Linked DNA regions of Homo sapiens. The protein of the gene in region 1 interacts with the protein of each later gene in a pairwise test. Each region holds a gene or a part of one and is shown on either strand. Other genes may lie near its edges.

Region 1 (7,268 bases):
ACTTTTGAGGCCTTAGAGCAAGGCTTAGCGGGAAGGGAACATTCTGGGAAGCTGAAGAGGGGAAAAGACACCCCCTCTCACCTGATAATGCATCAGTGTGTTGAGCCGCTTCCAGTCACCCTCAATCTTGGTGGTGATGTCCTCATCTTGCAGCACGACCCGGGCGATCCGGCCTTGGCGCCACTCTGGGTGGAGGGGGTGGTGCAGGGAGCGGCGTGAGAGGGATGAGGGCTGTGAGCCAGTGTCTCCCGATTGCACCTTCTCTAGGGACCTGGCAACCCGGCCCCCTCAAGCTGGTACCAATAACAGAGGCTAGAGACATCTAGGGCTCCATGGGCCCAGGCAGCAGAGGAAACACGTAGACCTCCCCAGAGACAGCCACATCTGAACAGGCAGCGCTCAAAGCGGGAAGCATTTCACACGGGCCTCAGCTGGCCAGGACACAGTCATGCCCCTGCAAGGGTTGTGTGCATGGCAGCTTCCCTTCCTTCACCTCTCAACCCCTGCCCTCACACTCTGAGTCCAGGTTTCCTACCCAAGTCCATGTCCACTGCCCTCGGCCGCTGGGAATAGGGCACATTCTTATACACGGCATCAAGAATCTTCTCCTTGACCTGTGTGATGGTGTCACAGTTTAACACCTTCACTGGGATCTCTGGACTGTTCTCGTTGTCAGGGTTGACGCAGTTCAGGATCTACAAGTAGGGGACAGAGGGTGAGCAGGACAGGAGTTGAAGGAGTAGTTTGAGGGAGAGGGTCAGGACCTCAGAATCTTCTTTTTCCAAAGTTCACCCTCCTTATAGGGGAAATAAGGGTACTTTTCTGGTCTGTGACTCAGTTTCCCTCACCTTCATAACATCTGCCAAATGAGAGTCTGAGTCATTGTGTCCAATTCTTCTTTCTCAAAGCACCAGGACTCTACTTTCTAGCTCCTGGACAGCTTAGGGGAGACTATAGTCCTGGAATGAGGCACCCTCAGTGTTTAGAGATGGCTCTACATGTATCAGAGACTAGTCATGCACTTCCCCAAAGCCTCTATGTTAGGAACCAACATACATCTTTCTCATAATACCAATTACCCAATAACTAATGATGGGTGAACTTTTTTCTCCCCCAATATTATCTAGGATAAACCGAGGCATAGAGTGCTTGGGATGGGTGGGCGGGCCTGCCACCTTGCTCTTGGTACACTTAGTTGTCCTTTGGGCTCACCCCAGACCAGCCTCCCATCCTCTTTATTGACCCCCTAGACTGCTTTTATGGACAGAAGGCAGAGCAAGGGGCAGAAGTAGAAGATACACAGGCGGGCCCGGAGCTTCCGGCTTCCTCACCAGGGTCTTGTACTCGATCTGCTGCCGGATGAGCTTGTCCTCGCTCAGGGAGTAGCGGGCCTCGCCCGTGATGGCATCAATGGGGCCCTTCTCCATCTGCTGCTTGATGGCACAGTATAGCATGAAGAGTGGCTCCCCTGCGCACTCCTGTGGGCACAGACAGGGCAGGAGGTGTGGGCACGGCCTCCTCAGGTTTGTACGTTTTCCCTTTCCTCTCTCGGAGCGAGGCCAGTGGAAGGAAGGGCTTTAGCACAGCCAGTCCAGGTTCCTGCTCCCGAGGGAGGGGGTCCCCATGCAGCCCTGTGGCCAGGATCTAAGCAGCAGTGCCATCCTGCCCTGGACGCTAGGCCCCGTCTCACTCCCTTTCTCACCTTTAGGAACTTGTGCAGGAGGAAGGCGAACCAATTGGTCAGCATCTTTTCAGCCACAGACTCTGTCCTGGGGAAGGGACAAAGGGTAAGGGGCAGTCCTTCACAGAGGGGTCTCCGTGGTGGGGCCTGGGCTTGCCATGAGGTCTCCCAAGAGAACAATGGAGCATGGGAGAACGCAGGGCGGGAGTCAGGACACCTGGGTCCCAGCCCAGCTCACCCAGTAACTAGACTGTGACCTGGGGGTAGGGGTGGCTTCTTTCTGGGCCTCAATTTCCTATGAAAATGGAGAGGTTGGCCTTTTCAGCCCTGATGGTCCGTGGTGCTCTGAACTTTGGCTGCATCTGAGACAGGGTCTGTGGATAAAGGCACCTCACTATCCCACAGGGCTATAAAGAACCGGTTCTCCCAACTCACTTCTGGCCTCAGGGTGATAACTAGAGAGTTTCCCAGTCCCTCTGGGCTTTCTTGCATGTGTGAGTACCCTGTTTTGCCTATCTGGAAGGTGCCTGGTCCCTTCCCCTCCAAAAACACTCAAGGTTAGACTTCCTTGGGTTCAAATCCTGATTCTGCCATACGTTGGCTGTGTGACCTTGGGCAAGTCATTTAACCTCTCTGGTTTCAGTATTCCTATCACTAAATGGAGACAGTCATAATAACATCCAACCCCAGTGGTTGTTGTCAGGGTTGAATGAGTTAATATTTGTAAAGTGCTAAGAAAAGTGCCTGGCACCTGCTAAGCACTATCCATTAGCTGTCATTATTGCTGTCATGTGGGGTCTTGGATCCCAGCCCTCAGGTAGAGAGCAGTGCTTAAGTGTTTTGCCAACAGGGGATTTGCTCATGCAAGGGCTGGCCCCCCTCCCCTTCCCATCCCAGGGCTACAGATCTGGGGATTTGGGAAGGAACAAAGCGGCTGTGACAGACCCTCAGTGAAGGGGATGCCGGAGGGGTATTTTAACTCCCTGCACGTGGTGCAAATTATATCCTCTGGTTGCAGTAAATCCCAGGCATTTGCCAGGGCTGCTCAGCAATCTGGGCCTGGGAGAGAGTGACAATGGCAGAAAAAATTGTAGCTTTCTCCCGTGGCTCCTCCCAGCACCCTCTCCCTGCATTGTGCTTGAGATTAGCTCTAATTTAAATACAACAGTTCTTAATGAGAGTTTCTAATGCTCAGATTGGCAGGATGGGGGCTCAGTACTCATAAAGCAAAGCCATTCTTCCTCCCTCCTCACCCCACGTGGGGCCTGGAAGCCTGAGACCTTGCTAGAGGAAGGCTAAAGAGGAGGGGTGGTGAACGGAGGTGCAGCCCTCCAGCCCCTGCTGCCCAGAGGACTCCAAAGCTGTGCCCGGCTCCCCACGGCCTCTAGAGAGGGTGGGCTCAGGGGATACTGAGGTCTCCAACCCTCTCCCCTGCCAGGAAAAATGCAGTGGGCATGTGTAGTGGATGCTGTGATTCAGATCCAGGAAGCTGAGCTCAGAAGGCACGGCCTTCTAGGCTGTCCAAATCCCTAGCTCAGTGCTGCGCAATAGAACCTTCTGCGATAATGGGAATGTTCTCTATCTGTGCGGTCCCGTATGGTGGCCACTAGCTGCAATGTGGCAACCAAGCACTTAGAAAGCGGCTAGGTGCTAGGGCAATGGAGGAGCTGGATTTTACATTCTATTTCATTTTAATTTGTAGCAGCTACCTGTGGCTAGGGGCCGCTGTGCCGGACAGCACAGCTCTAGAGGCACCGGGAGGAAGAGACTGTGAGATAGGAATTATTTTTCTCATTTTGTCTAGGAGGAAACTAAACAACAGAGTGGTTACAACACTGGCCAGAAATCACAGAGCTAGCAGGAGGCAGAGCTGGGACTCCAGCTGAGATCCGAGCAAGGGTCTGAGCTCATCCATCACACCTGGGTGACTTCAGACTCTGTAGTCTCCCTGGGCTGAGGGAAAGTCAGATTCTGCCCTGCAGAGACGTGAGGACACAGGCTGCTCTGAATGGGTGCCCCTTCTGGGGAGTGGGCCTTCTCATGCTGCTTGTGGGGCCTGCTATAATGAGGTGCTCTGTCCAGGTTCAGACTCCTGCCACCCTCTCCACCCACTGCTGCGGGCCAGACCTCCGGAGTAGCAGCTTGGGGTGGTTCTTGTTCTCCAGGTTCTTATCGATGAGGTCAGAGAGCAGCTGCTTGAGGACATCAGTGGCATATTCCAGGCGGCCCTGCAGGCCGGTCATGATGAGCGAAGCCACGTTGCCCCGGTCGCGCATGGAGAAACTGCGCTGCAGCTCCAGGGTGCGGATGAAGGTCAGCAGGAACACCTTGTTGTTGATGAGCTGGGCAAAGAGCTTCAGGGCCTTCTCCACGTGCTGCTGCCCGTTTCCTTGTACCTGGGGTGGGGTGTGGTGGAGGCGACGCCCTCAGAGGACAGGCATCGGGCCTCCTACCTGAGGGTCTCACTGAGGGCCTGCTGGCGATGACACTAGCTGTAGGACCCTATGTTTGAGGCCTATAACCAACCCCACCCCATTCCACTCACCCGTGATGATGTAGGAACAGCTGGCTCTAAGGTCGACAGTCTGCTCTGACCTTGCACTGGGCCGGGGAGGCTGGGCTCCATGCGGAGCTCTCAGAGGGGAGGCTGCCTGATTTTCCCAAGGATAGAATAGGAGATGCCCCCTCAAACTTCTTCAGTTTACTAGTCTCCCCTTAATCTCCTCTGCCTGATTTATTATCTTTAGTAAAACAAACCAACAAATGAACAAACAAACCTCATAGAATCCTGTGTCTTTCTTTAAGCCATCTTAAATCCATTTTAGAATGAGGCAGGATCTTAGTTAATTAGTTCAGTCATTAATTAAAAAATGACAAACAATGAGCTTTACCCTGGAACCATCCCAAGGAGCCTGGGTGCCCCCTCAGCCGTAACCTTCCTGATAGCTCTGTTGCTGAGATGCTGTTACAAACTACTGACCCCTCTTCCCTGCTAACCTTACTCAGTACTGCTGAGTCTCATCTGGATTTCCTAGGATACCCTGGGCCTGCATCCCTGCTGGGTGGCTGGGCCCAGGAGGCAGGCATTACCTCCAGCTCCCGCAGGACGGGGTGGTCCTCGATGCCCGGGAACAGGACTCGCATAGCGTAGGTACGATAGTCCAGGTAAGGGATTCCTGAGCGGTCCAGGTCACTGGTCAACTCATTGATATCCGTCTGGAGCTCAGCAAAAGCTATGAGAATAAGCAGACGGAGAGGCTCGTGGGGAAGCCCCAGTCGGGGGAGGAGAAAGAGGGAGAAGAAGTTTGCAAAGGACGAGGGGAGGACCTTTTGTAGAGACTCTGAGGATTACGGGAGTGTGTCTCCAGAGGGCGGGGCTACTCCCAGCTGTTTTTAGGTGGTGGGGAAATGGGTGATTTTTATGTTATTTTCTCCTCTATACTTATCTATAATTTCAAATTTTCTCTTTACATATTACAAGTGTAGTTTCAACAAGGAAAAAAAAGTATCATGATTGGGCCGTTTAGTAAAGATCACGGAGATGCTGGAGGCAGGTGAGAGACCATGGCTGAGGGGGTCCAGCAAAGACCAGAACAGGCAAAGTGCTGCCCTTTTCTAATCAAGGTAATAAATCAAGATGCAAAAGCCTAGGGGAGGTCTGGTCATGAGACGCTCAGCTGAGAGCCGAGTTTGGGAAGGCAAGGGCTTCAGAAGCCTCACCTTGGTGGTGGCACACCTGTCTTCCTGGCTCCTTCCTCTGCCAAACTCACCAGCCCTGTTGCCAGGAGGAACCTTGGCTCCACATGTCCTATTTCCCAGCCCAGCTCTTCCCTGTCATCCAGCAGAGGGCTTGTTTCTGATCTTGACATTTGCAGCAAAAGGAGAAATGTTTTCATTCCTAATTGAGCTGTTTACCCAGAGAGCCTGCCAGGTCCTCAGCCTGAGAGGACGCCAGGTACACTCGTCACCTCGAGGCTGTGGTTGCGTGGGACATGGGAGAAAACACAATCTGCACTCCCACACACGTCCACAGCCAAGGACACCAGCAAGTGGCGGCCTTCAGAGCGCTCAGCCTGCAGCACTGATGGAAAACAAACCCTGGGGGAGATGAGGCAGGTGCTTGTCTGCCTTTGCTGCCGCTGCTCCCACGTGCTGCGAAGACAGTGTGCAGAAAAACAAGAGCTGGACACTCCCATGGGGGATCTAGAGTCTGGGGCTGTGGAGCCTGGGGACTCTGACTGTGGGGACATTGAGGCCCTGAGAGGGAGAAAGTGTTTGCCAGATTGTGGGATGGGTCAGGGCAAAGAAGGGACTAGAACAATGCAATTGGACCTGGGTCCTCATGCAGTGGGCATTCTTCATTGGACATCTCTGACCCTATAAGCAAAAGAAGTTCTGGGAAAACAGGGGTGAAAGTGGAATGCAGAGGCATGGCTGGCAGCGATGGGAGTAAAGATAGGAGTTGTCTGCAGGGAGAAGGGCAATAAGGCAGGTGGAGAAAGAGGGACCCAGCAAATGAGGGTGTGCTTCCACTAACCTTCCTTGCACTCCAAGGCCACACGGGACTCCAGATTGTCCATCTGCATTTGCAGCCGCTTGAGAGTGAGGTCATTTTCTCGAGACTTGCGCTTGTAGGCAATGAGGACGATGATGACGATGATGAGGAGGAGGCTGCCGCCGGCCGCGATGCTGACGATGGCTGGCAGGGTCAGCAAGCTGTCTGAGATGACACTCACCGAGCCAGGCGAGAACACCATCCCGCCCACGTGAACCTGTGCATTGTACACATACAGACGCACATGGATGCACACAGGTGTAGAGCCCGGGCATGCCAGCAGATCCTTACAGTGCGAGGAAGGACATGACAGACCACAACCACACAGTGCAGCTCTAGATAAAAAGCAATTTCCTGCCTCGGCATCTGCCTTTCTTTTCTTGTGTTCTCAGCTTATACCCAATTTGATGTAGGACCCAGAGATGAGGAGATATGGAGGGGGTGAGTCAGGCAACGAGACAGAAGAGAGCCTTTCCTTAGGACAGATCACACATGCACCACGAGGCGGGAAGGAGGCATTACAGACGCAGGGCTCACTCACCATGACCTTGTGCTGCCCGGTGAGGTTGGGAGGCTCGCAGAGAAGCTGGGTCTCAGATACGGTGACAGCACAAGGGGTCTCTCCGATGAGCACAGTGTAGTTGAGTTTGGCCCCTCCAGAGGCAGGAGGGCAGAGGTTTTTGCCCTGTAGAGAATAGCAGTCTTTATAGGCATAATTGACACATGCACGCACAAGTTAATTGCCTACTTAAAAAGAGATTAAGGAGACGGGGAAGGGCAGCAGTGCAAAAACCAGGAAATGACTCCTTGGCAAGTTTTTGTGGAGGGGACTTCTAACAGCCATGATCTAGAGAGAAAGAGAGAAAACAGACGCAGGAGAGAATGAAAATGAAGAAGAGAGTGGGAAAAATGCAGAGGAGACAAAACACTAAACAAGAGAAAATTTTGGGGGAGGATGCATGGGATTTCACGAAAGTAGTGGGGCAACAAATCACTTGGATGGACAGTGCCAGGGACTGTGACCTCTGGAAA
Region 2 (7,415 bases), on another chromosome or scaffold:
GAATCTCACACCTAAGCAAGGCTCAAGCATGAAGTAAGGTGCTTCCTGCTTGGCAATGACCACTCAGTGAACCCCTGGGCAAAGTTCCACTCCATAAAGCTAACCCCTACTTCATCCTGGAGTGATCTAGAAACCAGGCCTTAGAGGCCACTCTCCATCAATACCCAAGAGTACTTCACTTGCAGAAAGACAACAAAGCCACTTAGAAGACCTTGCATTCTTGTGAGAGAACAATCAGGAAAAATTGATCATCTGAACCAGAGGGCTGTGAGAGTATTTTGAAAACAACTTACTTTTATCTTTCCTCCAAGTAGTGTAGGTAGGGGAAAACAGTTGACCGATTTTTATCACATAAAAGTTCTTCCATTTGTCTTTAAATAAGAATTTTTTTTTCATTGTGATCAACTCCAGCATTTTCATCAATTCCATCAACAAGTTCTCGGATGCAAAAATAAAGTGAAGATGGAGTCCCTATCAAACAGTTACTAGGTTAAGAGAGAGGGCAAAGGGATGGTGAACATAATTCAAAAGAAATGCACAACTGTCTTTAAAATATACCTGTAATTGCTACCATTTAAAACGATTTCTCTATGCTCAGCACTGGATTAAATGCTTTACATTGTACCAATTACTGTAATTCTCATAGCAACCCTGCAAGATGGCATTGCGTTATTCCCAGTTTACATATCAGCAAACAGGCACAAAACATTTGAGCAACTTTCCCAAAGTCACAGATGCTGTCTCAAAATTTTTTTTTATAAGAGGTGTTTACTTGTTTTTACTCTCCGTCGGCCTTTGTCAGTCACACACAAAAAAAGCAGACCTGCGTTTCTTGTAATTTTAAAATAAAGGAAGATACACACTTCAGTATGGGTGGAAATGACAAAAAGAGCCCCATCCAGTGTCGTTTCTTACCAGAGAAGGGAGATCTTTAATTTGGTGCACAGATTAAACCCTACAGGTTTTTCCACCCTGTTTCAAGTGACCAACTTGAAAAGTCATCTACTGGGCTAAAAAGGAGCCTTTGGAAATTGCTTTAAGAAAGTCATGGGCTTTGAACAAAACTATTAGGATCAGAAAACCGCATAGTTGCTTTTGCAAATGCATCCGATTGCCTTCTCTATAAATTTGCTCTATTTGATTTCTTCTCCATTCTATCATTAATCGTAAAACTAATATATCCTCCCAATCCCATATGTACTAAATAAATAATTTAATTTGATGGAACACATGAACTTGTGCCCTACACAGAAAACAGTTTGAGCTGGATCCCTAATTATGTCTGGCGTAATTGTATCTGGCATTATCTCACTGCCTGGGTCGGATTCTCAGGGGCCATACTTTCCTAACAGCTCTGAGGGGTCTCCGTGGTGTCATAGAAAAGCCAGAGAACCACAGAGTGCCCCCGGGAGGTCCTGCAGAACTGCCGGCTCAGCTAGGACCTGGTCACAAACCACAGACTCCTGAGGGCTGGGCTGCCTCCTGAGTGGTAATACCGAGGGCCCCAGCGGACTCTCAGTCCCTTTCCTCTTTCCCAGCGCCCCAACGCCTTGGGTCTGGGAAGAAAGCGCACGACTTCCCCGGAGACCCAGGGCCACAGACCCCGAGTGGAGGAAGTGGCTGGGAGCTGTCCATGGTGGCGTCGCGCCTGGGCACGCAGAGCCGCCGGCTCCCCGCCCTCGGGCGCGCCCTGGATCACTTTCCAGACCGCAGGGATGGAGAGACGCGCTCCCCGGCTCACCGTCCCTGGTATGGGGCTGCAGCCAGGCACTGGCTCACACATCAGAAGATTAGTTTTTAAAGGGAGCTCTCACCTGTGGGTAGCGTTGGCTGCTTGGAGAAGGACTCAGGACCTCAAACCCGGCAGCTGGCGGAACTCCTGGGACTGCCGTAGCGTCCGACCCTTGGGGAACAGCGGCTGTCGCAGAGAGTGTCTGCGGCTGAGGACCCAGGGCGCACAGCGCTCCTCTCTCATGAGCACACGCATCCCTTGGGGTCCATTCCAGAATGTCACTGGCCTTCGTTCCCAGAGCGGCGAGCTGGAGACCTGGCCAGCGTTCTGCCAGGACTCTCTGCCTTTCCTCACAACCTAACGCGACCTTTCTTGGAGCCGACGTCCTTTGCCAGGGACCACCAGACCTTCTTCCAGCGATGCCACGTTTGGAGTCTCAGTCTAAACATCAGCAGAGCCCCCCGGGTTCATCTAACATTGCAATTGCCTCAGCTCGGCCCCGCGCCAGCGCGTCGCTGGGTGCCTAGCGCTGTCCCGGAGGCACTGGGAGGCGAGGGAAACTGGGAGGAAGAGCGTGCTGAGGCAGGAGCAGCAGGGCGCAGACCTGTTGCTAGGCGCACGCCCGCTAGAGCTCGGCGTGAGCTGGCTCCCAGTCGGCAGGACACCGAGACCTGACCCTTGTGGTACTCCCTCCTCGGCGAGACACTCTCCCGGGCGCAAGCCCCCGGTGCCATTCAGAAGGGGGAAAATCTACGGAAAGCAGGAGTCTGCCCCCTCTGGATGCCCTCTGGGGACTCCAGCGCCCCCCGGCACCTGCAGCTTGTAAAGCATCACAAGATCTCAGAGAAATCCCACAGAGGACAGTGCCAAGAGCGTGTGCCCATCAACAGACGCATGGACAAACAGACAGATAGAGGTAGACTGCACAGCACAGGGTGGACAGACAAACAGAAACTGAGGCGGGTAACGTTTACCCTGTGCCGGGTGGAGGCGCGGGCCCCCACTTCTTACCTCTCTTCCGTGGCATGGGCCGTCAGCTCATCCCTGACGCCCCCAGCCAGGCCCTCTTACCTCTGGGTCTGTAGCCGAGACAGTGTCACGCCTCGCGGGCCAGGAGCGCAGCGGCCCCGGACGTCTGGTCGCTGACCGCCAGGCGCCGCGAGCTCCCGGGGCGTGGGCAAGCGGAGTGGTAGCTAGTCTGGGAAATCTGGGTTCAGACCCTGGCCGCGCTCAGCCCCGCTGGCTCCCCGCGCCGCTTGCGCTCGCCAGGCTCTGTCCGATAGCACCGCGCTGGGCTCTGCTTGAGCGCTAGCTCCCCGGCCCTCAGCCGAGAGGCCGCTTTTATAGCCACTTTTACTGACTCCTCCCCCGAGGAGCCCCTGACGCCCGCGCGGCACCGAAGCTCCCTCCCTCGCCCCCCGATGAAACTTCCCTCCACGCGCCCCCGCCTTGCCCAAGTGGGGCGGGGGCCCTGTGCCCGGGCCGGACCGGGGCGGGCTCTGGCGGCGGCTCTGGGAGACGCAGACCTGAGCCCGCGGAGCCCGGGTGCGCAGAGTCCCGCCCGCAGCAGCCAGGTGAGGGCGCTGGAGGCCAGGACTCGGTGGAGCGGCCGCGGCGGACCGCGGAGAGCAAGTCCCCGGGCCTCCAAGGAGCCAGGGTCGCCCGTGCCCCGCTCGCGCCCCGGGGCGCCCTCCGAGGCAAAGAGGCAGTGGAGGACAGGAGAAAAGGTCTGCGCCTGCCACAGAATCGCCGCGAGTCGGGGTCCCAGGCTAAGTCTCAGGATCTCTTTTTAACTCAGCAGCAAAAGAGTAGCCCGAGAAAGAGATTTTGGTATTGGCCTAGCAGTTAATCCGAGAGGAAGATGCTTGGGTGTTCACTGAAAGGCACCTTGGTTTGAAACTGGATTCAGACATGCCAGTTACAACTGTGTACAGGATCTTAACCCCTCCCAGTCTCAGTTTCCTCATCAGGAAAATGGGTTCTGTGATGCTTCCTCACTAGAATGGTGAGGCTTAAATGAGATCAGGAAAGTCCAAGTTCTAAGCACATAATAGGTGCTTGGTAAGTTAGAAACATTCCCTGTGGGTAGGAGGGCTCTGTGCCTCTTTAACTGGACAGGCCAAAGTTCTGAAGGGTCAAAGCAAGAAGGTGCGGCTGGTCTAGACATTCCCTCGCGGGAGGAAACAGTACCAGTAGGAAAAGTTCATCACAACACATCCCTAGGGCATATGGAGTCTCCTCTCAACTCTGCCGCTAACCTACTGTGTGACCAGGGCCAGCTACTTCCCCTGTCTGAGCCTCAGGGTGGTTTTTTTGCAGGGAGGTGAGGAGTGTTTGTTTTTCTTGTTTTGTTTTAATCTGTAAAATGAGGGCGTTGATACCTGCTCTCTGCCTCTTCCACCTTTCAGAGTGTGACTCAGCCCCCTTTCCTGGTTAGCAGAGGCCTCCTAGAATATACATTTCTTTCTTCCTTCCTGCCAGTGTTCTCTGAGAACCAGCTCCTCAGGCAAGGTCTCCATTCTGTGTAGTACACACTAGCTCCGGGACTCTAGGTCTGGACTTTAAGGCCAGGCTGTGGTCGGCAGAAGCTGTGGAAGTCTGTGATCACATCTGGGCTGAAGCAGAAGCCTTTGTCACCTGGTTAAACTGGGAAGTCCTGCAATCCACCTCTAGGCCTCTTCCAGAAAGCGGAACTTGATCCTTACTGGGGGTGGTGGTCAGGATTCTCAGCCCTTCTTTGATTTATTGGGAAGTAATGAACTGGATCCAATGGCAAGCCCTCCTCCCCAACCTTTTCTTTCCAGCCGAATAAAATGGAGCCCCCCCGACCCAGGGCCCCTCTCCCCAGTCCTCACCATGATTCCTGTTTATGTTTTTCTTCCTTAAGGAGCTCCCAGAAACCAGACCCACAAAGAGTTGTGTGTTAGGGGTTTGGGGGTGCTGGGCATTTGGCCCAAATGGAGAAAGGTCGACCTTGAATCAGCCTGGCTTGGCACGACATGCAGGATTTTCCATCAACAGACAGTAGATTTGAGGCCTGAGTGGAGCCAGGTAGCTCTCTGGTGAGGGGCTGGCTCCACAGCCATCTGGGAGATGAAGTGGTAAAGGCAGGGTCCTGTCTAGGGATGGGCCCTGAGAAGTGCTTGGCTATGTTTTCTCAAAGCACTGAAATGCCCAGCACATTCCTCTGGTATCCAGTTTTCTTTATCACAGACCAATGCCCAGGGGAAAAGAGCAGTGCTGATGAATTACAAACAGGCTCCGAATGTCTAAAACCAGATTCTCCAGCCAGTTCTCCATTCAGCACTGCCATTCAGCACTCAGTGATGAACGGGGCGTGCCGCGTAATTCTTTATGGATAAATATAGCAACATGACACTGGTGGATTTACTGCCCACACTTTCGCAATCCATTGTCTTGCTCTTATAAATGCAGAGACAGGAAAGAGCTGGTCAAGAAAGGCTGTGTTAGTTTTCTGATTCTTGCCGAAATCTCCCAGCAGAGAGTCTCCAGAGAGAAGGGAAACGCCCATCAATGGTGTGACCTGCCACCCAGAAAGCCTGCCCTTCCTCCATTCTTTGCATTTGCCTCCAACCCACCTTCCTCAGGTGGGATGCAGCCCCCTCAGCTACATCCTTGTGCAGTAGATTGGCCTGCCTGCTCACTGTTGCCTCAAGCTGCCCAAGTCTGGCATCCTCAGTCTGCTGACAGGATGCCACATCTGTTCCCTAAAACAAGGGCCTCCACACTCCACCTGCTGATCAGCAAAGACAGCACCTGACCCTACAGCAGCCTGCCTTATTACAGTTTAAAAGGTTGGCCACACCTGTGGCTCCATACGCCAAGCCTCCAGACCCAGTTGTCCAGGAAAACCTGGAGTAGACGGGTGGAGGACAAGGAGAAAAGGGAAGCAGGATGTAGTTAGGGTAGTGTGTGAGTGGGCTGTGGGCCTCAAGGTTTCCAGCAGACCCACAAAAAATTAAAACTGAATTGGGCATCTCCACCCTTGGAGAAGCAGCTCACGAATAATGAGCATACTTAAGTCCCACCAACAGGGGTCGCCCTTAGACACTGGGCCTGAAGCTGGCATCAGAAAAGGGAAATTCCCAGGCCTGGATCCGGAGGCCAGATTTCCAGCTCTCAGAGCTGTTGATTCCTGTCTTGTTGGACACAGAAGAGGCTGCCCAGCTGAAGAGAGACATGTCCTCAGCTTTTCTGGTGAGTGAAGGCCTGTGCTGGAACTTATGACAGCAAATCCCAGCTCTGAAAGTGGATTTCTATATCTTCCTCTTCAAACTCACCGTCACTCTAGAGAAAGAACTCTTCTTTCCTGTGTTTTATTTATGTCTAAAACATAGGTAAACGGTGTATGTATGATGTCTTCTTCTTATTTATTTCCTTTTGTTCTAATTGCAAAAAATCACACATGTTCCCTGTAAAAAAATCAACCAACCAACCAACCTTGAAAAACTTAAACAATGAACAAAGAGAAAAGAAATTACCTAACATCAAACATAATGTGTATACATTACAAAAGCTTGAAAAATACAGAAAAACACAAAGGAAAGAAAAAAAAATCACTTCCACTCAAAAATTATTTCTGTTAATTTCAGTATATAGCCAAGCATTTTTCCATGTATAAGTTACATATATAGTTTCACAAATAGATAAATGTATGTAAGTGTTCCATAAATCTTCAATAGCTAGCTCAAAATTATTCTCTTCCATCAGATTGCATGTTCTGAGAGGGCAAGGGCTGTGTCTCTCAAGTTTACCCATCTACCCTGTAGTAGCTCCTATAGTGGCCAACATGAAGTCCACGTGTAGTCCACCGTCAATGAATGAATACACGAATGAGCATTTCCTATAAAGATAACATACATGCGATGGAAAAGGAGACCCAAGTAGTTTACAAACATTTGAAAAGATGCTCAACTTAACACATAAATGAAGAAATACAAATTAATACTAGGCCGAAATACCTGTCAGGCTGGCAAAAATCCAAAAGTTTGACCCTACCTCTGCTGCGGAGGAGGCCAGTAAGGGTGGAGAATCAACCTTTGCATACATCACTGATGAAAACTTACGTTGGTACAACTTGGGAGGGCAGTTTGACAAGATTTATGAAAATATACATAATGTTTGACTCAGCAATTCCAGGAATTTATCTTACAGCTATAATGTGTGAAACAAATAGCACCAGGTTATACACTGTAGCCCTATTTTTAATAGTAAAACAACAACAACAACAACAAACTAGCCTAAGTGCCCAGTAGTAGGGCTAATTAAATAGTGTTGCATCTATATGATGGAGTATTATACAGCTGTTTAAAAGCTGAATAGAATTCTTTTTTTTGAGACGGAGTCTCACTCTGTCGCTGTGGCTGGAGTGTGGTGGTGCCAACTCAGCTCACTGCAACCTCCGCCTCCTGGGTTGAAGTGATTCTCCTGCCTCAGCCTCTGGAGTAGCTGGAACTGTAGTCGTGCGCCACCACACCCAGCTAATTTTTGTATTTTTAGTAGAGATGGGGTTTCACCGTGTTGGCCAGGCTGGTCTCGAACTCCTGACCTCAAGTGATCTGTCCACCTTGGCCTCCCAAAGTGCTGGGATTACAGGCGTGAGCCACTGTGCCTGGCCAGGAATAGGGTAAATTTTATATAGTAAAATAAAAAACTAAAGCAT

The links.
Region 2: the proteins of PLXNA2 (region 1) and CEMIP interact in a two-hybrid assay, tested with the Homo sapiens proteins (one study listed by BioGRID and IntAct).

Annotation. Positions count from the first base shown.
Region 1 is NC_000001.11:208,038,290-208,045,557, forward strand, and holds part of PLXNA2 (plexin-A2 precursor), read right to left. Parts: intron 6,922-7,268; coding exon 6,778-6,921; intron 6,454-6,777; coding exon 6,219-6,453; intron 4,915-6,218; coding exon 4,772-4,914; intron 4,078-4,771; coding exon 3,809-4,077; intron 1,770-3,808; coding exon 1,703-1,769; intron 1,479-1,702; coding exon 1,332-1,478; intron 696-1,331; coding exon 536-695; intron 186-535; coding exon 82-185; intron 1-81. UniProt on the Homo sapiens protein: Coreceptor for SEMA3A and SEMA6A. Necessary for signaling by SEMA6A and class 3 semaphorins and subsequent remodeling of the cytoskeleton. Plays a role in axon guidance, invasive growth and cell migration.
Region 2 is NC_000015.10:80,775,003-80,782,417, reverse strand, and holds the start of CEMIP (cell migration-inducing and hyaluronan-binding protein precursor), read right to left. Parts: upstream 3,049-7,415; 5' UTR 2,804-3,048; exon of another isoform or gene 294-2,803; intron 1-293. UniProt on the Homo sapiens protein: Mediates depolymerization of hyaluronic acid (HA) via the cell membrane-associated clathrin-coated pit endocytic pathway. Binds to hyaluronic acid.